Linked DNA regions of Homo sapiens. The protein of the gene in region 4 purifies or fractionates together with the protein of the main gene of each other region. This does not show direct contact. Each region holds a gene or a part of one and is shown on either strand. Other genes may lie near its edges.

Region 1 (3,500 bases), on a different chromosome or scaffold from region 4:
CCAACAGCCACAGTTATGTGAGCCAATTCGCTAATTCCTTGTGATAAATCAATTTCTATATTTTATCAATATTATATTACGTCAGCATTATATATATTTAGGCCAGGAGTGGTGCATGCCTGTAATCCCAGCACTTAGGGAGGATGAGATGGGAGGATTCCTTGAGCCCAGGAGTTTGAGATTACAGTGAGCTATGATTGCACCACTCCACTCTACCCTGGGCAACCAGCTGAGACCCTGCCTAAAAAAAGAAGAAAAAATTATAAAATCTATATAGATAGATCAACATATATTTATAACATATAAAGTTATATATTTATATATGATTTTATATAGCTATATGAATTATTTATGTTTATATATTATTTTTATATGTTATATTTAAACGTAATTCATGTCTATATAAATAAATGTATATATAAATTTATATATTATAAATATATGTTGCTATATCTATAAATTTAAAAAATTATATATTTATATAGTTATATAATTTATATATTTAGAAAATATATATTATAGTATACAAATATATTTTAGAAATATATAAAATATGTATATGTGTGTGTCATAGCCAGGTGCAGTGGCACACACCTGTAATCCTGGCACTTTGGGAGGCCAAGGCAGGCAGATTGCTTGAGCTCAGGAGTTAGAGGAACTCCATGTTGCCCCATGTTATGTTTTGGTATCTACCTGTCTGTCTGTCTGTAATCTACTGATTCTGCTTCTCTGGTTGAACCTTGACTGATAAAATGTTCCTCTTATACCTATTGCTTAGCAGACCTTAACATTCCGCTTCTTTGAAAGATTCTCTCCTGTTGGTCTCTCCTCTGAGTGCACGTGGGTTCATTTGAGCCCTACCTCTTCTTGCCTGGATTACTGGGGTTCTCGTCCAGCTGGTCTCCCTGCATCCCGTGAGGTCCATCCACATCCTGTTTATTCTCATGACTACCCAGTTTGTTCTTAGTAAACTACATATCTGATCTTGTCACTCTTCTTCTTAAAGTCTTTCAATGACTCCCTGAAGCTTTCAGGCAAACATTTAAAAGCGTCAGCTTTTTTTGTATGACTCCATTTTCTCTCCTCTCTTAGCATATCAATTATACTTCTTTTGAAAACCTTTTTAGTGGTTGCCCAGGAGTCTGCAATGTACATTTATGACTAATCCAAATCCACTTTCAAATAACACTATACCACTGCATGGAGTGTGCAAGTACCTTAGAATGGAGTCCTCCCAATTCTCCCCTCCTGTCCTTGATATTACTGCTGTCATGGATTTCTCTGATCCATAAACTGTAATCACCAAATACATTGTTGCTACTATTGTTTTAAACAAACGTATCTGTTTGTTAACTGTTAACAGTTCAGAATAAGAGAAATAAAGATTTTTATTTGTTTGTTTGTTAGTGTTTTTTCCCAGACAGGGTCTCACTCTGTCGTGCAGGCTGGAGTGCAGTGGCACGATCACAGTTCACTGCAGGCTTAGCCTTAGCCTCCCAGACTCAAGCAGTCCCCGCACCTCAGCCTCCCAAGTAGCTGGGACCACAGGCACATGCAACCACGCCTGGCTATGTTTTTTTCTTTTTTAATTTTTATAGAGACAGGGTCTCACTCTGTTGCCCAGACTGGTCTCAAACTCCTGGGCTCAAGCGATGCTCCTGCCTTGGCCTGCCAAAGTGCTGGGATTATAGGTGTGAACCATCCCACCTGACCAGAAGAACTTCTTTTAACATCTTGTAAGTCAGGTCTGCCAGTGACAAATTTCCTGTTTTGTTTGTCCAAGAAAGTCCTTTTTTTTTTTTTTTTTTTTTTTTGAGACAGGGTCTTACTCTGTCACCCAGGCTGGAGTGCAGTGGCTTGATCTTGGCTCACTGCAGCCTCCGCCTCCTGGGCTCAAGCATTCCTCCCACATCAGCCTCCCCAGTAGCTGGGACTGCAGGTGTGCACCACCACACCTGGCTAATTTTTCTATTTTTTGGTAGAAAAAAAAATACAAAATGAGGTTTCACCATGTTGGCCAGGCTGGTCTCAAACTTTTGACCTCAGGTGGTCCACCGGCCTTGGCCTCCAAAGTGCTGAGATTACAGATGTGAGCTACCATGCCTGGCCGACTAGAAAGTTTTGTTTTTTTTTTTTGACAGAGTCTCACTCTGTCACCCAGGCTTGAGTGCAGTGGCGTGATCTCGGCTCACTGCAACCTCTGCTGCCCAGGTACAAGCGATTCTCCTGCCTCAGCCTCCCGAATTGCTGAGATAACGGGCACCTGCCACTGCGCCCGGCTAATTTTTGTATTTTTAGTAGAGATGGGGTTTCACCGTCTTGGTCAGGCTGGTCTCAAACTCCCGACCTCAGGTGATCCAACCGCCTCGGCCTCCCAAAGTGTTGGGATTACAGGTGTGAGCCACTGCGCCTGGCCCCAACTAGAAATGTTTTAAGGGATATAAAGCAGTTAGTACTTGAGATGATTCTTCTGTAAGATATGGGATAGGTGGAAATGGGTAACGACTAACAGAATCAGATGGTATGCATCCCCAAATAGTAATTCCAATGATCTAGGAAGACCAACATTCCCACACCATCCCTACCACCACAGACTCAGTGTTTCTCAATGAGAGACAGAATTTGTGTATGGAGGATCTGAGTCCAAGCCCTTCTATTAGTATAATTGCATTAATATTATTTGTTTCTTTTTTTTGTTTTAACTTTTACTTTAGATTCAGGGGTACACGTGCAGGTTTGTTACATAGGTAAACTTGTGTCACTGGGGTTGTACAGATTGTTTCATCACCCAGCTACTAAGTTTAGTACCCATTAGTTATTTTTTCTGATCCTCTCCCTCCTCCCACCCTTCACCCTCAAGTGAGCCCCAGTGGGGTCTGTTGCTCCCGTTTTTGTGTCCATGTGTTCTTATCATTTAGCTCCCACTTTTAAGTGAGATATTTGGTTTTCTTACTTATAAATGTGATATTTGGTTTTCTGTTCCTGCATTAGTTTGCTAAGGATAATGGCCTCCATCTTCATCCATGTCCCTGCAAAGGACGTGATCTCGTTCTTTTTTGTGGCTGCATAGTATTCCATGGTGTACATATACCACATTTTCTTTATCCAGTCTGCCATGGATGGGCCTTTTGCATTTGGACAATTTCTACTGACACGTGTTCAGGCTCACTGATTCTTTCCCTGGCCATGTCCAGTCTACTGATGAGTCCATCCAAGACTTTCTTCATCTTTGTTACAGTATTTTTGATTTCCAACATTTCCTTTTGATTCTTTCTTAAGAGTTTCCGGCTGGACGTGGTGGCTCACGCCTGTAATCCCAGCACTTTGGGAGGCCGAGGTGGGCGGATCACGAGGTCAGGAGATCGAGACCATCCTGGCTAACATGGTGAAACCCCATCTCTACTAAAAATACAAAAAATAGCTGGGCATGGTGGTGCACGCCTGTAGTCTCAGCTACTTGGGAGGCTGAGGCAGGAGAACCACTTGAACACGGGAGGCAG
Region 2 (3,959 bases), on a different chromosome or scaffold from region 4:
GGTTCAAGCAATTCTCCTGCCTCAGCCTCCCAAGTAGCTGGGACTACAGGCCTGCGCCACCACGCCCAGCTAATTTTTATGTTTTTAGTAGAGACAGGGTTTCACCATGTTGGTCAGGCTGGTCTCGAACTCCTGACCTCTAGTGAGCCGCTGCACCTGGCCCTGATAATTTTCTTTGTCAACCAACCTGATCTATATCTCCATCACTGAATTGCCCTGGACTTACAAGATGAAGAAGGAATTGCAGCTGTGTTGTTTCTTGCTTCTTTCCCAGTTCCCTGAGATGAATGAGGTCTGTCAAGAGGATGAAAGGAAGGGCAGCATCTTGATTCCATTTATCATCCAGAACCTGGGCCTCCTGACTGGATTCACCATCATGGTGGTCCTCACCATGTATTCAGGACAGATCCAGATTGGGTAGGGCTCTGCCAAGAGCCTGTGGGACTGGAAGTCGGGCCCTGGGCTGCCCGATCGCCAGCCCGAGGACTTACCATCCACAATGCACCACGGAAGAGGCCGTTCTATGAAAAACTGACACAGACTGTATTCCTGCATTCAAATGTCAGCCGTTTGTAAAATGCTGTATCCTAGGAATAAGCTGCCCTGGTAACCAGTCTCTAGCTAGTGCCTCTTGCCCTCTCCTCACCTCCTTTTCTCTCAGTGACTCTGGAACCTGAATGCAGCTTACAAGACAAGCCTGACTTTTTTCTCTGATTACCTTGGCCTCCTCTTGGAACCAGTGCTGAAAGGTTTTGAATCCTTTACCCAACAATGCAAAAATAGAGCCAATGGTTATAACTTGGCTAGAAATATCAAGAGTTGAATCCATAGTGTGGGGCCCATGACTCTAGCTGGGCACCTTGGACCTCCAGCTGGCCAATAGAAGAGACAGGAGACAGGAAGCCTTCCCATTTTTTCAAAGTCTGTTTAATTGCCTATTACTTCTCTCAAAGAGAACCTGAAGTCAGAACACATGAGCAGGGTGAGAGGTGAGGCAAGGTTCATCCTGAATGGGAGAGGAAGTCGAACCACTGCTGTGTGTCTTGTCAGGATGCTCACTTGTTCCTACTGAGATGCTGGATATTGATTTTGTAACAGCACCTGGTGTTTCACGGCTGTCCGAGTGAGCTAACGTGGCGGTGTGGCTGCCTGGACCTCCTCTTTCAGGTTAACGCTGACAGAATGGAGGCTCAGGCTGTCTGCAAGAAAACAGTTGGTTTGGCTGTGATTTTGACCTCCTCTTCCCCACTGCCATCTTCTAAGAGACTTTGTAGCTGCCTCCTAGAAGCACATTCTGAGCACATTTGAGACCTCTGTGTTAGAGGGGAGACTGCACAAACTATCCTCCCCCAGGTTGAGACGTCTGCAGAGTGGCAAGCTGACTTGTAGAAATGGGGTGCCATTTATGCTCTACTTAGACAAGGGTAATCAGAAATGGAATCAGTGCAGGCAAAATTTAGGATTTGCCGCTTCCATAAATCAAAGCATGACTAATAGGGGGTCTCTGAAATGTAAGGGCACAAACTTCACTTAGGGCATCGCAGATGTTTGCAGAATGGTTGGCCTAATGATTATGCTACAGATGGGTTTTAAATGACCCGTCTAGGTTACTGCTTCCTTGCAAAAAAAGTCGAATCCTGCATTGAATTGAATATGAATTTCTCTAACTCTCTCCAGAAAATGGATGGAGATAACTTGTCTTTAAAACTGTAGGCCAGCCTTAGCCACTGTGGAGCCCTTGCCTCCGAGCTCTGGCTTCAAGGGGAGCTCTTCTCCAGGTTCACTAGGTGAATTGATTTATTATTATCATATTGATAATGTGAGATTCTTTAGCCACTTTGGGGAGCCTGTCTCTCCAGAAGCCTTTCTTAGTGGTGCCCACAGTTGGAGCCCAGGGGCCATGTTTGCAAACTGATTCATGTGCATGGCTGACAGGAGTACTGGTTCACTACCAATGCCTGAGCTTTTCTCTTACATAGAAAAACTGTCCGCTCTCAGTAATCACAAGCAGCATCCGTTTTGTTTTCTCTTCTTGGGAGACATCTGTCAAACCAGGAATATTCTTGAAAAGAACGTGAGCAGGAAAAACTGCTGGTGATACTTTTTTTAAGTTTTGTTTTTATCTTGCCTGTTGGCTTCAATACATTTGAGAATACGCTGAAGAGGGAAAATTTCAGTGATGGAGATTCTAGATTAAATATCAGGACTGATTTCCTGGTGGGATTATGGTCCAGTTTTACCAAAGAACCAATTCCTTGAATGTTGGAATCTAACTTTTTATATTGTCATTATTATTGTTGTTTTTAAACGGTTCTTTGTCTTTTCTGTTTTATTTTTCTCAAGCTGCTTTCAGGAGCTAGCAGAAAATAACTCAAAGTTGAAGACTCTGGAAGATTTTGCTTTAACCTAACTCGCATTGATGTATTAAATTTATAATTTTAGCATTCCCAATAGATCCTATCATTCCTTAAACATAATACCCTTTGTCTTGGAGTAGAATACTAAGTTAGAGTTAGTGGATTTCTAGTTTAGGAGAGGAGCTCAAAACTATAATCTTTAACAAATTGAAAAATGAAATAGGGTGTTTTCCCTTTTTGTGCACACCTATATTACCTTAAGAAATTTCCTTCCATAGACAGCTGCCTCAAAGGGAAATCCTCTTTAAACCGTAGTTGGCGCAGAGGTCAGTCCTAGTCGGAGCTTAGGAGGGGCGGAGACGCTCACATCGTCTGACTTGAGTCGCCACTGATTGTGGCAACAGCTTTGCCTCATGAGTCAAAAATTGGCAATTTCTTTTGATTTTTAGTTGTTGAATTTGCTGTTTCAAGCATTTGTACATATTAGAAGTCTAAGGAGTAGCAAGTCAGTGGGAGGACTTTTTCACCCCTGGCATTAGCAGCTTCGACCTCATTTTCCAGATGCACCAGCTCCTATTAATAAGTTAGCAAGGAAAGTGTATGTCACGTGCAGGAACAGTGAGGCAGGGACAGGGGTTCTGCTCCTTCTCACTTCACCACCGGCACACAGCTTGCCCCTGTCTTTGCCCCCAAAGGTATTTTGTGTCTAGTGTCAAATTGGAGCTATTCTTCACTGGTCCTTAACCTTGGGTTTTAAAAAGAAGGCTTCTCTGTTTGGGTAGCGTAAGAGCTGAGTATAGTAAGTCCTCTTCCAAAGAGATGGCAATATGCTGGGCATCTACTTTAAAACAAAGTTGTCTGATTTTTGCAAGAGAGGTTAGGATTTTATTGTTCTTATTTCCCTTTACAGTTCTGCAGTTCCATCACAGTATTTTTTTAAATAACTCAGGTGTATGAGAAGAAATTAGAAAAGAAAATTAACTTATGTGGACTGTAAATGTTTTATTTGTAAGATTCTATAAATAAAGCTATATTCTGTAATTGTTGAGAATCCCACGGGTGATCATTTGCAATAAATGTGGATGTAATGAAGGCTGTTGAACACAAGGTGGCGATGGTGTCTCACTGACGTACAAAGTTTTGTTTTACCAGGTCTGGTTTAACATTTGACTGGGATTTTAGAAGGTTTTTTTTGTTGTTGTTATTGAGACAGAGTTTTGCTCTTGTCGCCCAGGCTGGAGTGCAGTGGTGCGATCTCGGCTCACTGCAACCTCCACCTCCTGGGTTCAAGCGATTCTCCTGCCTCAGCCTCCCGAGTAGCTGGGATTACAGGTGCCCGCCACCACGCCTGGCTAAATTTTGTATTTTTAGTAGAGATGGGGTTTCGCCATGTTGTCCAGGCTGGTCTCGAACTCCTGACCTCAGGTGATCTGCCCGCCTTGGCCTCCCAAAGTCTTGGGATTACAGGCTTGAGTCATTGTGCCAGGCCAAGAAGGAAACTTTTGTACTCTCTTCTCTTTTCTTTCTTTGAGACAGTCTCACTCTGTCACCCAGGCTGGAATGCATTGGCACGATCTCGGTTCACTGCAGCCTCCGCTTCCT
Region 3 (3,500 bases), on a different chromosome or scaffold from region 4:
TTATGTAGACGGGGTGGTGGTATAGATGGGGTAGTGGTGCTGGTGTAGACAGGAGGATGGTATAGACAGAGGAGAGGTGATGGTGTAGATGGGTGGATTGTGTAGACAGGGTGGTGGTATAGATAGGGCAGTGGGGATGGTCTAGACAGGAGGATGGTGTAGATGGAGGGGAGATTGTGGTATAGACAGGGTGGTAAAGCTCTGGATGGGAGGATGGGGTAGATGACATCCTCACCTTGGCTGCTGTACCCCACACAGAGACCACAGGAAACCCGTCTCCTGGGTGAGCTCTCACAGCAGCTGGTGTACCCCACACGGCGACCATGGGAACCCCCTCTCCTGGGCACGTGCTCACCGCAGCTGTCGTACGGCACCACTGAGACGACAGGGACCCCCTGCCCTCCCCCGGGCGAGTCCTCACCGGTGACACGGAGACCGCGGAAGGCCCCTCCCCTGGGCGCGTGCTCACCGCAGTTGGTGTACCCCACCACGGAGATCACGGGGAACTCCCGCCTCGTCCGCTGCCGGCGGAGCAGGTGCCTCTTCTTGCGAAGCCTGTCCAAGGCCTTCCTGATCTTGGCCTCCTTCTCTCTCAGGAGACGCTGCTGCAGCTGCATGAAGGATTCTCCTAAAAGACACCCGAGATGGTGAGGCGGTGAGCCACGCCGGGAAAGGCACAAGTGCGGGCGGTGCCGCGGAGGGTCTGCGGGGGCCCGGGGCCTGCTCCCGCTCCAGCATCTGGGGGCCCGGCTGCTTTCCCCAGCAGCGGCCCCGACACGTCCTGTTCCATGAGAAAGGGCTCTGCTCGGCGGAACGGGATCTCGCCTCCGGGTGTCCACCCTGTGAGGTCAACGAGGGCTTCCCGTGACTCGGGGAGAAAGTAAAGGCCAGATCACTACGGAGGCCTCCGAGCGGGACACGGCCCAGGACGTCATCGTGAGCGGGCTCAGTGGGGCCCCTTTCACATCCGAAGTCCCAGAACCTGGGAATGGGACCTGATTTGGAAATATGGTCTTTGTAGGGTCTCAAAATATCACCCTAGGTTAGGGTGGGCCCTAAGGCAACGACCTGTGTCCTTCTAAGAAGCAGAGACCGGAGTGACGAGGCCACAAGCCTGGGACGCCTGGAGCCCCCAGGAGCTGGGAGAGGCAGGAAGGACCCTGCCCTAGAGCCTCCAGAGGGAAGTGGATACAAGTGTAGCGGATTGAACTGTGGTCCTCCTAAAAGATCTGTCCACATCCTAATTCCCAGAACTGGTCAATGGGACCTTATTTGAAAATAAGGTGTTTGTCATAACTGAAGTATCTAGAGATGCGACGATTCTGGATTAGGGCGGGCCATAAATGCAATGACATGTGTCCTTGTAAGAGACAGAAGAGGAGACACAGACACAGAGGAGGAGGCCACGTGGAGACGGAGGCAGAGACTGGAGTGACGCGGCCACAAACCCAGGGATGCCTGGAGCCCCCAGGAGCTGGGAGAGGCAGAAGGAGCCCCTGGAGGGAGCGCAGCCCTGTCCTCACCTTGATCTCAGAGTTTTGGTGTCCAGGAGGGGAGAGCATAGATCTCTGCTGTTTAAATCCCCAGTTTGTGGCTACTGATTTAGGCAAAACCTCCAAAAACCACCAGCATCTCCTATCTCCTCAAATGCTACCAGACGGAGCCCCCAGCCAGCCCCCACCCTGTTGGAATCTTCCAGGGCTGAGGGTCTCCTATGTCCTCAAATGCTACCAGGAGACGGAGACCCCAGCTGGACCCCACCCTGTTGGAATCTTCCAGGGCTGAGAAGGGTGGCTGCCGCTGACAACCGCATTCCGAGGACCCTCTGGGACGCCGCGCCCGGCCCGAGTTACCTGACCCCATGATGTAGCGCGAGCCGACTCCTCGGTACAGGTGGGCGACGTCCCTTTTCAAGTTCGACCTGGTGTGGGAACGGGAGTGGCTCGGTCTCTGCGGACGCTGTCTCCCTCCCGGCAGAGGTCGAGGTGAAGGTGAAGGGGGCACTGAGCTGGGCCTCTGGGCCGAAGGGAGGAGCCGCTGTTGCGGCCCCGCTCCGCGTGTAGCTCACACACTGTGAGTGACGCGTGTCCCGGGCCGAGGGGACCTGCCTAGTGGGGAGCCGGGGGCAGGCAGTGGGGGCAACGGGCCCCGGAGAGAGAGCCCACACGGTGCTTTTCTTCTTTTTTTTTTTTTTTAGACGGAGTCTCGCTCTGTCACCCAGGCTGGAGTGCAGTGGCGTGATCTCGGCTCACTGCAAGCTCCACCTCTGGGGTTCACGCCATTCTCCTGCCTCAGCCTCCTGAGTAGCTGGGATTTCAGGCGCCCGCCACCACGCCCGGCTAATTTTTTTCTTGTATTTTTAGTACAGACGGGGTTTCACCGTGTTGGCCAGGATGGTCTCGATCTCGTGACCTCGTGATCCGCCCACCTCGGCCTCCCAAAGTGCTGGGATGACAGGCGTGAGCCACCGCGCCCGGCCCCCATGGTGCTTTTCTTCCTCACGCACCCCCAGAACGCCCTACAGGTGACTACAGAACGGAGGGGTTCCGGGAGTGGACGTGACGCTCGGCGCGGCCCAGGGGCCCCACGATACCTGTGCAGCGGCATCTCCGCCAGGGCCACCTGAAGCCGGGCCTCCTTCGTGCGGGCGTTACAGCGGAAGATGTGCAGGACGACCGTGAAGCGGTCAAACACCTCCACGCCCCAGGCGGCTTCCAGTTCTTTCTGCAAAAGGAGAGAGCAACTGAGAAGCCACGGGGGAAGGCCGGGCCCTGGTGGCCAATGTGAGAGGAAGGAGGACGTCTCTAATGCCTTAACCCCACCGTGTCCCCATCTGTCCCCATCTGTCCCCCGCCTGGCCGGACGCCGTGGCGTCCCCTCCTTCATCGCGTGGAGTGCGGGGACAAACACAGCAAGCCACATCCTGTGGTACCTTGGTCGGGGCAGCCATCCTCTCCACGTTCAGGAAGACGCACGTGATGTCTGGAGACCCTCGGATCTTTTCTAACAGAAAGAGGGGGTCCCGTCAGAGGCTGGCCGTCCACACCCGTGGACTGTGGGATGAGCCCACCATACCCTTTGTGGGATGCACCGCGGAGAGCTCACTTCACAGGCATCCCCGACTTCCTGAGCACGAGACCCGGGATCCAGGAAGTCAGCGTGGGAGGGGGTGTGTCTCTAGGAGTGTGTGTCTCAAAGACATAGACATGCATACGGTGAACACATCCCGGCAGGGACACAAACACATACACACGCAGACACACACACACACACACACACACACACACACAGTAAATACATCCCGACAGGGACAGACACAGACACACAGACAGACACACAGAGACACACACAAACACAGTAAACACATCCCGGCAGGGACACAAACACATACACACACACACACACACACAGTAAATACATCCCGACAGGGACAGACACACACACAGACACATACACAGAGACACACACAAACACAGTAAACACATCCCAGCAGGGACACA
Region 4 (3,335 bases):
ATTTGAGAAGGATTAGCATAATATAGAAAGACTATGTATATGAGTTCCTTAAGACATGGCAGGACCCTTGCCTTTTAATACATATTTGAAAATTATAACCATGTTGTTCAAATCCCAAAATACTCTGGGAGGAGATAGGGGCCAAAAAAAGAAAATAAATCCTTTTTCATGGATGGTAGAATTAGGATGTTTCCAGAACCAGCACTGTGCCCATCGTAGTAGGCACTGAATTTTTTTTTGTAAAAGAACATTAGGATAGCTCCTCAAGAGAGGATGTTGTTTTCCATAATGAACTTCTTCTGGTGCTGCTGTGAGACCTCCAACTCCAGTAGGCCACTGATGTGTTTGAGCTGTTCTGAATATTCTCTTCTCCCCAGGGAGCAGGGGGCTCTTTTAGCATTGACAGTGAGGAGTATGAAGCGATGCCTGTGGAGGTGAAACTGCTCCCCAGGAAGCTGCAGTTCTTCTGTGATCCTAGGAAGAGAGAACAGATGCTCACAAGCCCCACCCAGTGAGCAGCAGAAGACAAGCACTCTGAGACCACACTTTAGGCCACCGGTGGGACCAAAAGGGAACAGGTGCCTCAGCCATCCCAACAGTGTCGTCAGAGGGTCCCCAGGGCATTTTCATGGCAAGTACCCCTCTGCCCCCACTCCAGCAGTGCTTCCCAAAGTGTGCTCTGTCACCTGCTTTGCAATCGGCTTCCATTAGCGCATGTTTTATTTTGGTGTGACGGTTGGCCCTCCTAAACACGGACTTTCCTCAGGCTGGTTCAAGACGGAAAAGGACTTTCTTCTGTTTTCTTCCAAAGTGCAACCACAGTGGAGAGCCCACGGTGGGCTTAGCCTGCCTAGGCCCTTCCATTTCTCTTCTTTGACCGTGCTAGGAATTCCAGGAAAGTGCATTCCTGCCCTGGTGACCTTTTCCTATGTCTAGGCTCCTCCACAGGTGCTGCTATTTTGTGAGCTCCGGCTCCTGTTTAGCTTTTATTTCAGTTCTAACCTCAGTCCAGAAACATATGTGAGGTTGTTTCCCTCTTCAGCCACGGCTACAATACCGGAAAATGCTAGTTTTTATTTATTTTTTTAAGTAGTGCTTCCTAAATGGTTTGCATGAGAGCCACCTGGGGTACATGTTGAAAACTTATTTGGGGTCTACCCCAAACCTAATAACCCAAATTTGGGGATGGGGCCCAGGAATATGCATTTTTAAAAAGTCATCTGCCCTTCCCAGGTGATTCTGTAAGTTGTCCCTCAACTGTACTTGGAGAAATCGTGTTTTAAAGCAGTAGTCCACAAAGTATTCTGCTCATGTGCCCCCAAAAGTATTTTGAAAAATCATGTATACCCTCACCCATCTAAGTTGATATCTAAAATTTTATCTAAGTTGGTATCTAAAATTTTTCATGGGAAGTTAAATAGTTGACAAAGTATGTATTTGCTGGTGTCGTGTAAATATTGGTATTTTAAAATAAAAACTGTTACATCACTATTTTAAACATATCCAGTACAATTTAAATATCACAACAATTTGACACCCTTCATTCATTTATAAAAATAAATGAGCTAGTTCTTTAGTAGTTAAACATTTCAAATTGGCTTTTCTCCTTCTGTATTTCCATACCACTTTTCAGCCAAGAATCCTATCATAATGTAATCTATTATGCCCGACATCTTTTAATCATTCACCCCATTACTTCTTGTCAACAAAAAATATAAATGGAAATTTTTTTTTTAGCTCTTGCTTTAAGTGTTTGTTTGTTATCTCAGTCCAGAACCAATATTATCGTAATTAATTATTGGTATATAATGAAAACGGTATTAATTCTTGGATGATTAAAAGTTTTTTTATTAGAATGTTCTTTATCCTAATTAGTTCATTTATCCAAGAATACATGAATGTGATTTACAGCTGAGATGGGGTTCAACCTCAGCTGTATTCCTTGTTTCTGTATAGATGTAAGCACATAAATTCGATGGAATAGAATTACGTTAACAATGTTTTTACAGTTCTTTGGATTCCTTTGGCATTTTGACAAAGATCACAGTGCTCTATCATCAAGAATTATTAATGATGATCTATCAACTAACAAACAACTTGATTAGATTCTCCTTTAGTCTGTTGAAAGCAGAGAACTGAAATCCACCTGATTTACCATGGCTTTGCCAGCCAGTCATTAGCACCATTTACTTTTACTATCGCTGACATTTTCCTTTGTTCAGTGGCCCTGAGGTTCTTACACTCTAGGGGGCAGTGCACCACAGGAAGATAGATCAATGAGGGAGGATTGCGAGGGGGAAGGGGAGGAAGCAGAGCTGGCAGGCCTTAGCTACAGGCTCTCTCTCAGGCAGATCCCTTTTAAGATACATACACCATGCCCACACATCCCATGGAGAGAGACCAATGCTTTAGTAGATTACAGAACAGCTATGAAAAGTCCATGAATGAAGATCACAAAAAGGAAGGCTTTCTTATTTCATACTGTATTCTTCAGGGTGGTAAAATTTCTGCTTTTGGCAAAAACATAACAGACGGTTCCAAACATCAGCATAAAGATCACTCATCCCATACCACCCACAGGTAGGGAGGAAGGATGCTGTAGTATATGAAAACAAAAGTTTTCACCTGAGCTGAGAGCATTTAGCATATCGTGGTTCTGTAACAATATCAAGGACCAGTGCAGAATCTGGCTTTCTTTTCTGATAGGCTACCAGTGTGTGTTTATGTGTGCTCATTTTGTGGTTCTAATCATAATGGTACATATAATTAGGGAAGGATATGGAAGCCACTTTAGAATCTTATTCATTTTTAAATATAAATATGCCTTGTTTCAAACTTTGTTTTCTTGATTCAGGCTTTCTTTCCTGTGAGGGCTTGGTTTCCTTATTGTTGACTGCTTTGTTCTTTGCCTTGTCCTTCCCTATAAAGCCTGCATGGAAGACGTTTAATAGTGCAACTAAAAGAGAGTCAGCTGAGTGAGGCTTGTCAGCCAAAGCTGGAATGCTGAGCTATCTGGAGGAGATCCTAATAACCCAATTTGGGGATGGGGCCCAGGAATCTGCATTGGGAAGTCGGCCACCCTTCCCAGGTGATTGTTTAGTACAAACTTTTTGACAGATTAATTTCACTCAAATGCAAAGATTAATCCCAGCACTTTGGGAGGCCAAGGAAGGTGGATCACCTGAGGTCAGGAGCTCGAGACCAGCCTGGCCAACGTGGTGAAATCCCATCTCTACTAAAAATACAAAAATTAGCTGGGCATGGTGGCATGTGCCTGTAGTCCCAGCTACTCTGGAGGCTGAGGCAGGAGAATCGCTTGAACCCGGGAGGCAGAG
Region 5 (3,500 bases), on a different chromosome or scaffold from region 4:
ACAAAAAAAATTAGCCAGGCGCAGTGGTGGGTGCCTGTAGTCCCAGCTACTCCGGTGGCTGAGGCAGGAGAATGGCGTGAACCCCGGAGGCCGAGTTTGCAGAGAGCCGAGATCGCACCACTGCACTCTAGCCTGGGCAACAGAGCAAGACTCCGTCTCAAAAAAACAAAACAAAAACAAAAACAAAAACAAAAAATAAATAAAACTCCTTCAGAGAGTTCCTAAGGGTTTCAGGAGCAGATTGCACAATAATAGAACTTGGTTTACATCAGTATGCAGAATATTAATGAAACAATCAAAATTTGAAAGTTTGGTGGAAAACAAACTGGTATGAAATGCTAAGCAGATGAAGCAAAAAGATTCTGTAACCTTTAATGAATATTGTTAAGTGCCTTATGCCAGAGATAAACATAATCTGACCAAACAAGGACACAGATCCTTAGCAACCATGAGGTGCTGAGATTATTTGGACAATATAGTACCTATAAAAAGTAAAAGCCTACAACTTTTACACTTCCCTATGGCAGAATACTTAAATGCCAATAAAAGCTAGACAGCTTATTCATCAAGGTGGTACTTCTTCCAAGTTTTCAGAATGGACATTTATGCAGTCTTGGGTTGTTTTTTTTTTTTTTTTTTTAATTGATCATTCTTGGGTGTTTCTCGCAGAGGGGGATTTGGCAGGGTCACAGGACAATAGTGGAGGGAAGGTCAGCAGATAAACAAGTGAACAAAGGTCTCTGGTTTTCCTAGGCAGAGGACCCTGCGGCCTTCCGCAGTGTTTGTGTCCCTGGGTACTTGAGATTAGGGAGTGGTGATGACTCTTAACGAGCCTGCTGCCTTCAAGCATCTGTTTAGCAAAGCACATCTTGCACCGCCCTTAATCCATTTAACCCTGAGTGGACACAGCACATGTTTCAGAGAGCACAGGGTTGGGGGTAAGGTCATAGATCAACAGGATCCCAAGGCAGAAGAATTTTTCTTAGTACAGAACAAAATGAAAAGTCTCCCATGTCTACCTCTTTCTACACAGACACAGCAACCATCCGATTTCTCAATCTTTTCCCCACCTTTCCCCTTTTTCTATTCCACAAAACCGCCATTGTCATCATGGCCCGTTCTCAATGAGCTGTTGGGTACACCTCCCAGATGGGGTGGTGGCCGGGCAGAGGGGCTCCTCACTTCCCTGTAGGGGCGGCCGGGCAGAGGCACCCCTCACCTCCCGGATGGGGTGGCTGGCCGGGCGGGGGGCTGACCCCTCCACCTCCCTCCCGGACAGGGTGGCTGCCGGGCGGAGACGCTCCTCACTTCCCAGACGGGGCGGCTGCCGGGCGGAGGGTCTCCTCACTTCTCAGACGGGGCGGCCGAGCAGAGGCGCTCCTCACATCCCAGACGGGGCGGCGGGGCAGAGGCGCTCCCCACATCTCAGACGATGGGCGGCCGGGCAGAGACGCTCCTCACTTCCTAGATGGGATGGCGGCCGGGAAGAGGCGCTCCTCACTTTCCAGACTGGGCAGCCAGGCAGAGGGGCTCCTCACATCCCAGACGATGGGCGGCCGGGCAGAGACGCTCACTTCCTAGACAGGATGGCGGCCGGGCAGAGACACTCCTCACTTTCCAGACTGGGCAGCCAGGCAGAGGGGCTCCTCATATCCCAGACGATGGGCGGCCAGGCAGAGACGCTCCTCACTTCCCAGACGGGGTGGCGGCTGGGCAGAGGCTGCAATCTTGGCACTTTGGGAGGCCAAGGCAGGCGGCTGGGAGGTGGAGGTTGTAGCGAGCCGAGATCATGCCACTGCACCCCAGCCTGGGCACCATTGAGCACTGAGTGAACGAGACTCCGTCTGCAATCCCAGCACCTCGGGAGGCCGAGGCTGGTGGATCACTCGCGGTCAGGAGCTGGAGACCAGCCCGGCCAACATAGCGAAACCCCGTCTCCACCAAAAAAATACGAAAAACAGTCAGGCGTGGCGGTGCGCGCCTGCAATCGCAGGCACTCGGCAGGCTGAGGCAGGAGAATCAGGCAGGGAGGTTGCAGTGAGCCGAGATGGCAGCAGTACAGTCCAGCTTTGGCTCGGCATCAGAGGGAGACCGTGGAAAGAGAGGGAGAGGGAGACCGTGGGGAGGGGGAGAGAGAGGGAGAGGGAGAGGGAGAGCTGTTTTTTTTTGTTTAATACTCTATAAATCTATGCCTAATAGAATAAATAGAACTCTACAGGTTAAGGAGCTACTGGGACTCAGGTATCCTGGCCCATAAGTGTTACAGAGTGTTCTTGGGTGATAACTGTACCTATGGTTTATAGCTCCAAATAAGTATAAATACATAAAGTAGACTTACTGTAGAATGTTTCCAGAAACGGATAATTTCCTCAATGTCTGTAACAGGATTAAATAAGAAGTAGTCTCTCCATTCATTCCAGTCCACTGTCATTGTCCCATCAACATCAATGCTGAAATTTTAAAAAAATGATCAAAGTACAAAACTAAATTGATAAATAAAACTAACATTATTGGCCACTTTACAGAATGACAGTTTCTTTTCTAACATAATATTCTCATTAAATTAAAAAACCCCATCCACAAATATAGGTTGTTGGAAATGGCAGCAAGCATTTTATGGTCCTGTCAGATAGTTTTAATTATCTAGATAAAAATGGGCCCAAAAATTACAGCCAGCTCACTAAAGAATACTTTCAGCACTCTGTCAAACTCTGCCAATGAGCTACAAAACACAAAAACTTGAAGATAAAATATTAAACGATGGTAATGAATAGATTCATTATCCATTTTTTTCATGCACTTAGTGGATCATGAAGATAATTCTTAATGTTCTATTGCAACATTTGAATGTAGTTTTGAAATATACTCAAAACATGCTATCAACTTCCTCGAAGTTAGGAAAATTAACAGCTATTATAAAAAATCAAACTGTCAGTGACTGTGCCTTTGAGTCTTTTTTTTTTATTATTATACTTTAAGTTTTAGGGTACATGTGCACAATGTGCAGGTTAGTTACATATGTATACATGTGCCTTGCTGGTGCGCTGCACCCACTAACTCGTCATCTAGCATTAGGTATATCTCCCAATGCCATCCCTCCCCCTCCCCCCACCCCACAACAGTCCCCAGAGTGTGATGTTCCCCTTCCTGTGTCCATGTGTTCTCACTGTTCAATTCCCACCTATGAGTGAGAATATGCGGTGTTTGGTTTTTTGTTCTTGTGATAGTTTACTGAGAATGATGATTTCCAATTTCATCCATGTCCCTACAAAAGACATGAACTCATCTTTTATGGCTGCATAGTATTCCATGGTGTAAATGTGCCACATTTTCTTAATCCAGTCTATCATTGTTGGACATTTGGCTTGGTTCCAAGTCTTTGCTATTGTGAATAGTGCCACAATAAACATACATGTGCATGTGTCTTTATAGCAGCATGATTTATAGTCCTTTGGGTATATACCCAGTAATGGGATGGCTGGGTCAAATGATATTTCTAG
Region 6 (4,090 bases), on a different chromosome or scaffold from region 4:
CTCCCAGGCTGGACACACAGCTATGCTGGCTGCATTGAGTACACTCAGTCTGTTTCACCCATTCAGCCACCGGGGCTCTGCTCATCTCCTGGCCCAGATGAGCACCAACAACTGTGCTTCCTCCCTGGCCACGAGCATCTCACCATCTACAGCTCCCCTTCCAATACTTCACAGCCCCAGAAGCAAGGAAGAGGCTGGGGACGCCAAGCCCGCCACACAGAGGGGGACTTTCACTTTACTTGGGCAAATCCTTCCCTGCCAGCCCACCCTCTGGGCAGGAAGCAGGCAATGGACACCTCCCTGGATCCCACGGGACCCTAGGGAAGAGGCGGGGCATGGGCTCTGTCCCTTTGGACAGAGCAGGAACAGAGGTCCAGAAAGGTCTGGGACATGCCGGGGTCTAGAACACCAGAACCGGCCTGAGACTGGAACCCAGCCTCCTCCTGCCCAGACCCAGCCCCTCTGCCATCTTGTCCAGTTCTGATCCAGCGGTGGGGTCACAGAAACACAGCTGCTCCAGCTGGGCCATGAAAGGGGCAGAGCCTGACCAGGATCTACAGAAGCCACAGTGGGTGGGACCTCAGACAGCCTTTCACACATCACTGGGGCAAGGGGCTCAGCAAGTCACAGGGCGGCCTGAAGTCACACAGCAACTCGGGTCCAGAACCCAGGCTTCCTGGCTCCCACCCCCTCCCAAATGGGATCGTAGCATCATCACAAAGGCTTCCAGTTTCTGCAGCCTTCCTGGGTGCCCATCCCATCTCTTCCTTTCTCTCATCTGGAAGGGTGTTATTTCGGCTTAAACTGTCCCTATAGTCAATAGCTTGGGCTTGGAACTCAGGCCACCCGGTCCCAGAGCCCAGCTTTCCCCTGCCTCCACATCCCCAGCTATCCTGCAAGCTACATCCAGAGAGGCAAGACCCGAGCTTCCCCAGAGTCCCTGCCCAGCACCTGACCATTGTCAGAGCAAGGCCAGGTCCACTGGAGAAGAGCATGGCTGATCTGAAAGGGGGAAGCAGGCAGGGGCTGGGCCTCCCCAAGAACTGGGGTGACCTGTAACCTTGATGCCACCTGTCTGCCCCACCCCAAGACTAAATGCATGCAGCCTTGTCTCATGTATCATGGTAACTTCAAGTGACCCCTGAAACAGCCCTGCAAGGCAGGCAGGATGATCCACCATCCAGAAGGAGAAACTGAGGCTGAGTAGGAGGTGTTTGCCCCAAGCACAGCAGCCATGGAGGCTCAGACTGGGCCCATCCGACTCTTCCCATGGCCCCGCTGCCTCCACCAGCCCCACTACCCTGTCCCCATCCTGGAGGGGCTTGGCCAGAGCCACCTGAGGGACAGGAAGCCTGGGCTCCTCCCACCCCCAGCCCCTGCCATGCTCACCCAGTGCCCTGGGCAGAGTCCCACACTCCTGGATGGCACTGGCCTCCCTAGTGCCATTTGGGTTGAGCATTCCACTCCAGGACCAAGAGGGGCATGCTCCAGGGAGCCCCAGGGGCAAGGCCATGGGGCACCTCTGCTCCCCACCCGGTGCCCCAACTTCGCTTCCCAGCCCCTCTCAGGTGCATGCCTAGCACCCGCGGGAGCTGGTCTGTCTGGCAGGGCCACTCAGCCCCACCCTGGGTGCCCAGGCCCCACCTCTGCCATTCTCCTGGGGTGGGGGAGGGTGGCCCTTACCAGCAATGCTCCCTGCCAGCCTCACCTCAGCCTTCCCTGTCCCACCCCACATGTACTAGGCTCTGTCCCACCTCCAGGCACAGCTCCCGCAGGACCCCCACAGCATCACCGCCTTCTCCCCTCTGTGACACGAAACCCAGAGCGCCTGAAGGTCCTGCTGCAGCCCCCTGGGCCTCGCCCCAGGTCTCCGCTCTCCGAGGCAGCTGGTGCCATGGAAAGAGAAACGCTTTCGGTGTGGGCTCAGCACACTTCTCACTAGTGTGTGGACTGCACACCTCCTTCCTTCACAAGCCGCCGTTTCCCCGTCTTTGAAAAGGGGATGAGGACCCCCACCCCACAGTGCTGCTGAGGGGATGTGGCCAAACCGCACAGCCAAGTGCTGGGCGCCTAGCTGGGCCTCAGTGGGGGTGAGTCTCCTGTGTCCTGAGTCTGTCCTGCAGGCAGCAGCGAGCCGGTGCAGCCAGAAAGGAAGAAGGGGAGGAGGGGCGTTCCTTTGAGCCTTGCCGCTGGTTGGGCCCACTGAGGCAGGAAGGGGCCTGCTGGGAGGCTCGTAGAGGGGTCACAGCCAGTGGCTCAACAGCGCCCCCCAGCCTCCTGCTGCCCGGCCTCTCCTCAGGTCCACTGACCTGGCTCGCCTTCCCCGTCAGGGCTGATGTCCACACACCTCCCGGGAGCTCGCTGGGCCCGGCTCCTTCAGTCCTGGGCAGGATGTGGAAGGCGCACCCATCCCCCGATGAGGACACCCGGGCACGGGCGAGGAAGTGACTCGGCCTGTGTCGCCCGGCCGGGGAGTCACGCCGGACCTGGGGCCTTTCTGCTGTAATGGAGGGGAGACCCCTGCGCCTGCCCCAGCCCCGCCCTCCCTGCCTCTGGCAGGCCCGGGCCCTCAGCCAGCCTTGGCCCCTCTGCGCCCGGACGCGCGGACGCTGGGCGCGCCAGGGCCTCAGTTTCCCTGGAAGCGTCCAGCCCCCTCCTGTCCCCGCCGCGGCGACAGGCTCTTTCCTCGGGGAATCCGGCCTGGCCTCGGGGTAGGGGCGGGCGAGAAGCCGCGCGGAGCGGCGGGGAATGGACGTGTGGAAGCGGAGGTCACTTACCGTGTCCCGGCCTGGCCGCCACTGTCCTGGCCCGGGTTCCGCAAGGCCTGAAATAGTCGCAGAGTCAGCCCCGCCCCGCCCGCCCCTCCTTCCCCGCCCCGCCGCAACCGCGGAAAACCCGCGGGCGGAGGCCAAGGCCCAGCGCGGCCCGGCTGTGTCCCTGCGTCCCAGGGGCTGGGCGCGCCCGGCCTGCCCAGCGGGGGATGCGGGGCGCTGTCACTTCCTCCCAGCAGCCGGGCAGGGGCGGGGGGCTGGCCGCGCGTCGCATGGTATGTGGAGTTCGGGGGACGGCACGGGGACGACGGGGTTGTCAGGCGCGGAGCCATTGTCCGACGACGGCTCCTGATAGGCCGCCTGGATGGGGCGCGCTTGGCCGCGTTCCCGCGTCACACACCGGCTCCAGCTGCGGGAGAGCCCGTCCCACCCCAACTCCCCAGCCGCCCCTCTGAAGTGTTCCGGTGTCACCGTGGCCACAAGGAGGCAGGGGACGGGGGCTTCCTGAAGGAGGCCCCCTAAGGGGAAGGGGGCTACAAGGCTGGCCAGAGTGCTGGCCGCGCGGCTGTGCACAGGGCCTTGAGCCCCTCCGGTCGTCAAGCCTTGCTTGAAATGCGTAAATGCGGAAAGGTGAAGTGGCTGACCCGGCTCACACCACTTTAAGTAGCGGAGTGGGGTTCCTAGCCAGGCCTATGGGACTCCCACTGGAGCCTTTCCCCCTCTGGGGCTGGGGCTGGACCCACAGGCTGCCGGAGCAGGCAGAAGGGGAGGGGCCCAAGGCCCAGACTCCAGGGCCTCGTCTGGATCATCAACCCGGCTTTGCCCATTCAGCGCAGGCCTCCGTTTCCAGGCCTGTCTCCCCATCCACACCGTCTCTCAGGGTTTGTTTTGGGAGATGTGGGGGTGGGGCATGTGGGGAGGATGGAAAGGGGCTGTGAAGGGAACCCACTGGAGATTCACTTCCTTCCTTATTTCACACTCTAGGCTAGGAATTCCTGCCCTCTGGAAAGGACCCAGACATTTAGGAATTTCCCGCTGGGCAGGGGCTTCCCTCCTGCCTCACTGGGGCCTCTGCTCCTCCCCTCTTTTGTTTGGCCTCTTTCCCCGCCCCCTGATCACTCCGCCACCCCTTCTGCAGCCTAGTAACAGGTCTTCCAGGACCAGGGGGGCCAGCGGAGTGGGGGCGGCTGTGGGTTCAGGTGCCCTGGGAACTGAGAACTTCCTCTTCCAGAGTGCTGGCCAAGCGCCAGGTTTGCACTCGGATTGCCATCCATCATCCTGTCTCTGGGGAACCTGTGGGGGAGCGGATGCGGGAGGCC
Region 7 (2,867 bases), on a different chromosome or scaffold from region 4:
TTTTTTTAAAAAGTTTGAAACCAGAAGAAACTGAGGAGTTTTTTAAGCAAAACATAAACTGTCCAAATTTGAGTCATATTTCTCATTTCAATCACAAGAAAAAATTAATTGGTTCTATGAAATACATACTTTTAAGAGACATAGGAATTGCAACAATAAGGCCGGGTGTGGTGGCTCACACCTGTAATCCCAGCACTTTGGGAGGCCGAGGCGGGTGGATCACCTGAGGTCAGGAGTTTGAAACCAGCCTGGCCAACAGGGTGAAACCCTGTCTCTACTTAAAATACAAAAAAATTAGCTGGGCATGGTTGTGTGTCCCTGTAATCCCAGCTACTCGTGGGGCTGAGGCAGGAGAATCACTTGAACCTGGGAGGCAGAGGTTGCAGTGAGCCAAGAAAGCACCATTGCACTCCAGCCTGGACAAAAGAGTGAGACTCTGTCTCAAAAAAAAAGAAAAAATGAAGTGCAACATTAGAATTTAAATAAACTAGAATACACACTTCAGGGCAGAGACTTATTTTTACTCATATGTAGCCTGAACTCCAAAACCAGCTCAATTTTTAATTACAGTGCTGGCAGTTAAAAACCAAAATAGCACTTTGAAATTGATACATAACCCTTTTGCTGTGATGGCTTTGTTTCAGAGCTATTTATGAAGAAATTGATGCTCACCAGCACAAAGGAGCTCAAAATGATGGTGACTGAGGTAAAGACTTCAACTTATACAACTTAATTCCATATTCCATATAATTTCAGTATAATTATCACTTTACATATTTAGTATTTAAATTTTCTAAGGGCCATCTGAGTCTGACACTTTGAAATATGAGTTCCCCTGAATCATTCAAATTGTGCTGAACCATTGTTCACTAATGAGAGTCATTCTTTGTGATTTTCTCATCTGTAAATAGTAAGGCTTGGGAATACAGTAGTTTATGGTATAGAAATATTAATGCTAACAAAATAGATGAGCAATAGGAGTAGCACTGAAATCAGGCATTTGTTTTTCATATGCAGTTAATACTTGTTAACCGGTACCAGTAGACCCATTTACCGTTAGTCCTCCAAATAGGTCTGAATTTTTCCTATTTTCAGCACTACTAATCCCATGTATTTACTATTTAATGGTCACCAATGAACTATCAAAACTTATTTATTCCCCTTATACCCTCCCCTATGGAAGAAGCACATTCTTACCTTTCTTCTACTAGACTGTGACTCTCCAGCTTCCCAGTAAAGACAAGAGAGTTATCAAGGAATGGGGAAAGAGAAGGACAGGATGAATACTGGCCATTTTCTTCTCTTTATTTTAGAAGAAAGTGGATGATCAGCTCACTACCACATCAAAGGTGCCAACTCTCTAAAACGTAGACTCTGTGCAGCTTTGAAGCCTGGAAGACAATACCTACCAACATGTCAAAGCCATGGTGGCACATTTCTGCTATAATGAAGATTAAATAGAATAACAGTTCCAGGATAACACTGATTCCTGACAACAGCGTGAGATTTCAACAGAACTTGTTTGGAACAAATACTCACTTAAAACTTCAGCAGAAGAAAAATTACTTAGTCCTTAGGCCAACCAATTTAACTGCAGTGTCATGTTTCACAGGCCTTCCTACATTTAGAAATCGTCACACAGCTGTGATAAGAGTAGATTATTTTACTATGAAATAATTCTGAATAGATGAAAGCATAAAATGTGAGAAACTGAATGTATTATTCAGGAAGAATACTGAGTGCCTTCATTTAACTAAAGTTGAATGTAAAAGTCAATTTGCACTTCTTTATAATCCTCTGGTTTAGAATTATAAATTGTTAAAACCTTGATAATTGTCATTTAATTATATTTCAGGTGTCCTGAACAGGTCACTAGACTCTACATTGGGCAGCCTTTAAATATGATTCTTTGTAATGCTAAATAGCCTTTTTTTCTCTTTTTACTGCAACTTAATATTTCTATTTAGAACACAGAAAATGAAAATATTTAGAATAAGTTGTACATTTGATGACAAATAAATCACTATTAAAACAATTTAATACTTTTTTTTTTTAACAAAGGTTTGTTTCCAGAAGAACTTTTGATGTCAGTAAATCTTCACAATCCCACCTGTACATTTTAACATTCATGGACTTGTAATGGTGATGCTTTGGCTAACAGCCTAGTAGATGTATTTTATTTCAATTTTATGATACTACAGTTTCAAAGTAATTATTCAGAACTCTGAATATAAAATAGCCCTAAACCTTAAAGGACAAATCAAATTTGAAATAAGAATTTAAATCTTTGGACAAGCTGTTAGGGCTTAGTGACTCCTCTTCTACTTTGAGCTTTTAAAATACTGACTATTCATAATGAAGGAAAATAGCAACCAACTCTTTTAGACACAATAAACATGGTTAGAAGTTCTGGCCTATGACTTGAAACAAATAACCCTGAGCATACATTTTTGAAAAACATTGTCAGATTCATTGCTGTAAGTATGAAGAGTTAATAATCTGGAAGGGAATTATGGAATTAAGCTGAACCCATGCCTGCATATTTAAAAAACAAAGCGGCTTATTTTAATAGTATCAAACTCTTCAGTATGGTATTGAATAGTCAGTCATATATTCTAGCTAGGCATATGAGTTTCTTATGATAAAAGCTGAACTTGTTCTCTCAAGTTTAAGTGAAAAAAATTAGTTGAGAAAAAATAATTATTTAAAATATAAGCCTTCATATTATTGTACAATATTTCTCCTTTGAGAAGATAGGATATATGATTTTCCCAAAAATCACAACTTTGAAGGAAGACTTAGTTGCTGACTTCAATTATATCCTGGAACTGGCAACTTGTGCCCTTCCTTTGCTTCAAAAAAAGTGT

The links.
Region 1: the proteins of AGK (region 4) and SFXN2 purify together in Homo sapiens (affinity purification with mass spectrometry, with the first as the bait; one large-scale study listed by BioGRID). This does not show direct contact.
Region 2: the proteins of AGK (region 4) and SLC39A14 purify together in Homo sapiens (affinity purification with mass spectrometry, with the first as the bait; one large-scale study listed by BioGRID). This does not show direct contact.
Region 3: the proteins of AGK (region 4) and GTPBP6 purify together in Homo sapiens (affinity purification with mass spectrometry, with the first as the bait; one large-scale study listed by BioGRID). This does not show direct contact.
Region 5: the proteins of AGK (region 4) and SLC25A24 purify together in Homo sapiens (affinity purification with mass spectrometry, with the first as the bait; one large-scale study listed by BioGRID). This does not show direct contact.
Region 6: the proteins of AGK (region 4) and TNFAIP2 purify together in Homo sapiens (affinity purification with mass spectrometry; one large-scale study listed by BioGRID and IntAct). This does not show direct contact.
Region 7: the proteins of AGK (region 4) and COX11 purify together in Homo sapiens (affinity purification with mass spectrometry; one large-scale study listed by BioGRID and IntAct). This does not show direct contact.

The regions. Positions count from the first base shown.
Region 1 is NC_000010.11:102,721,136-102,724,635, forward strand, and holds part of SFXN2 (sideroflexin-2), read left to right. Parts: intron 1-3,500. UniProt on the Homo sapiens protein: Mitochondrial amino-acid transporter that mediates transport of serine into mitochondria. Involved in mitochondrial iron homeostasis by regulating heme biosynthesis.
Region 2 is NC_000008.11:22,419,278-22,423,236, forward strand, and holds the end of SLC39A14 (metal cation symporter ZIP14 isoform a precursor), read left to right. Parts: intron 1-274; coding exon 275-421; 3' UTR 422-3,459; downstream 3,460-3,959. UniProt on the Homo sapiens protein: Electroneutral transporter of the plasma membrane mediating the cellular uptake of the divalent metal cations zinc, manganese and iron that are important for tissue homeostasis, metabolism, development and immunity.
Region 3 is NC_000023.11:312,297-315,796, forward strand, and holds part of GTPBP6 (putative GTP-binding protein 6), read right to left. Parts: intron 3,004-3,500; coding exon 2,933-3,003; intron 2,725-2,932; coding exon 2,594-2,724; intron 1,922-2,593; coding exon 1,854-1,921; intron 629-1,853; coding exon 470-628; coding exon of another isoform or gene 236-469; intron 1-235.
Region 4 is NC_000007.14:141,652,410-141,655,744, forward strand, and holds the end of AGK (acylglycerol kinase, mitochondrial isoform 1 precursor), read left to right. Parts: intron 1-377; coding exon 378-515; 3' UTR 516-2,835; downstream 2,836-3,335. UniProt on the Homo sapiens protein: Lipid kinase that can phosphorylate both monoacylglycerol and diacylglycerol to form lysophosphatidic acid (LPA) and phosphatidic acid (PA), respectively. Does not phosphorylate sphingosine. Phosphorylates ceramide.
Region 5 is NC_000001.11:108,158,844-108,162,343, forward strand, and holds part of SLC25A24 (mitochondrial adenyl nucleotide antiporter SLC25A24), read right to left. Parts: intron 2,451-3,500; coding exon 2,339-2,450; intron 1-2,338. UniProt on the Homo sapiens protein: Electroneutral antiporter that mediates the transport of adenyl nucleotides through the inner mitochondrial membrane. Originally identified as an ATP-magnesium/inorganic phosphate antiporter, it also acts as a broad specificity adenyl nucleotide antiporter.
Region 6 is NC_000014.9:103,122,171-103,126,260, reverse strand, and holds the start of TNFAIP2 (tumor necrosis factor alpha-induced protein 2), read right to left. Parts: upstream 2,801-4,090; 5' UTR 2,310-2,800; intron 1,887-2,309; exon of another isoform or gene 1,755-1,886; intron 1-1,754. UniProt on the Homo sapiens protein: May play a role as a mediator of inflammation and angiogenesis.
Region 7 is NC_000017.11:54,959,922-54,962,788, forward strand, and holds the end of COX11 (cytochrome c oxidase assembly protein COX11, mitochondrial), read right to left. Parts: coding exon 2,812-2,867; 3' UTR 1,406-2,811; coding exon of another isoform or gene 1,344-1,405; 3' UTR 706-1,343; coding exon of another isoform or gene 645-705; 3' UTR 501-644; downstream 1-500. Other genes in the region: TOM1L1 (TOM1-like protein 1), read left to right, coding at 645-705. UniProt on the Homo sapiens protein: Exerts its effect at some terminal stage of cytochrome c oxidase synthesis, probably by being involved in the insertion of the copper B into subunit I.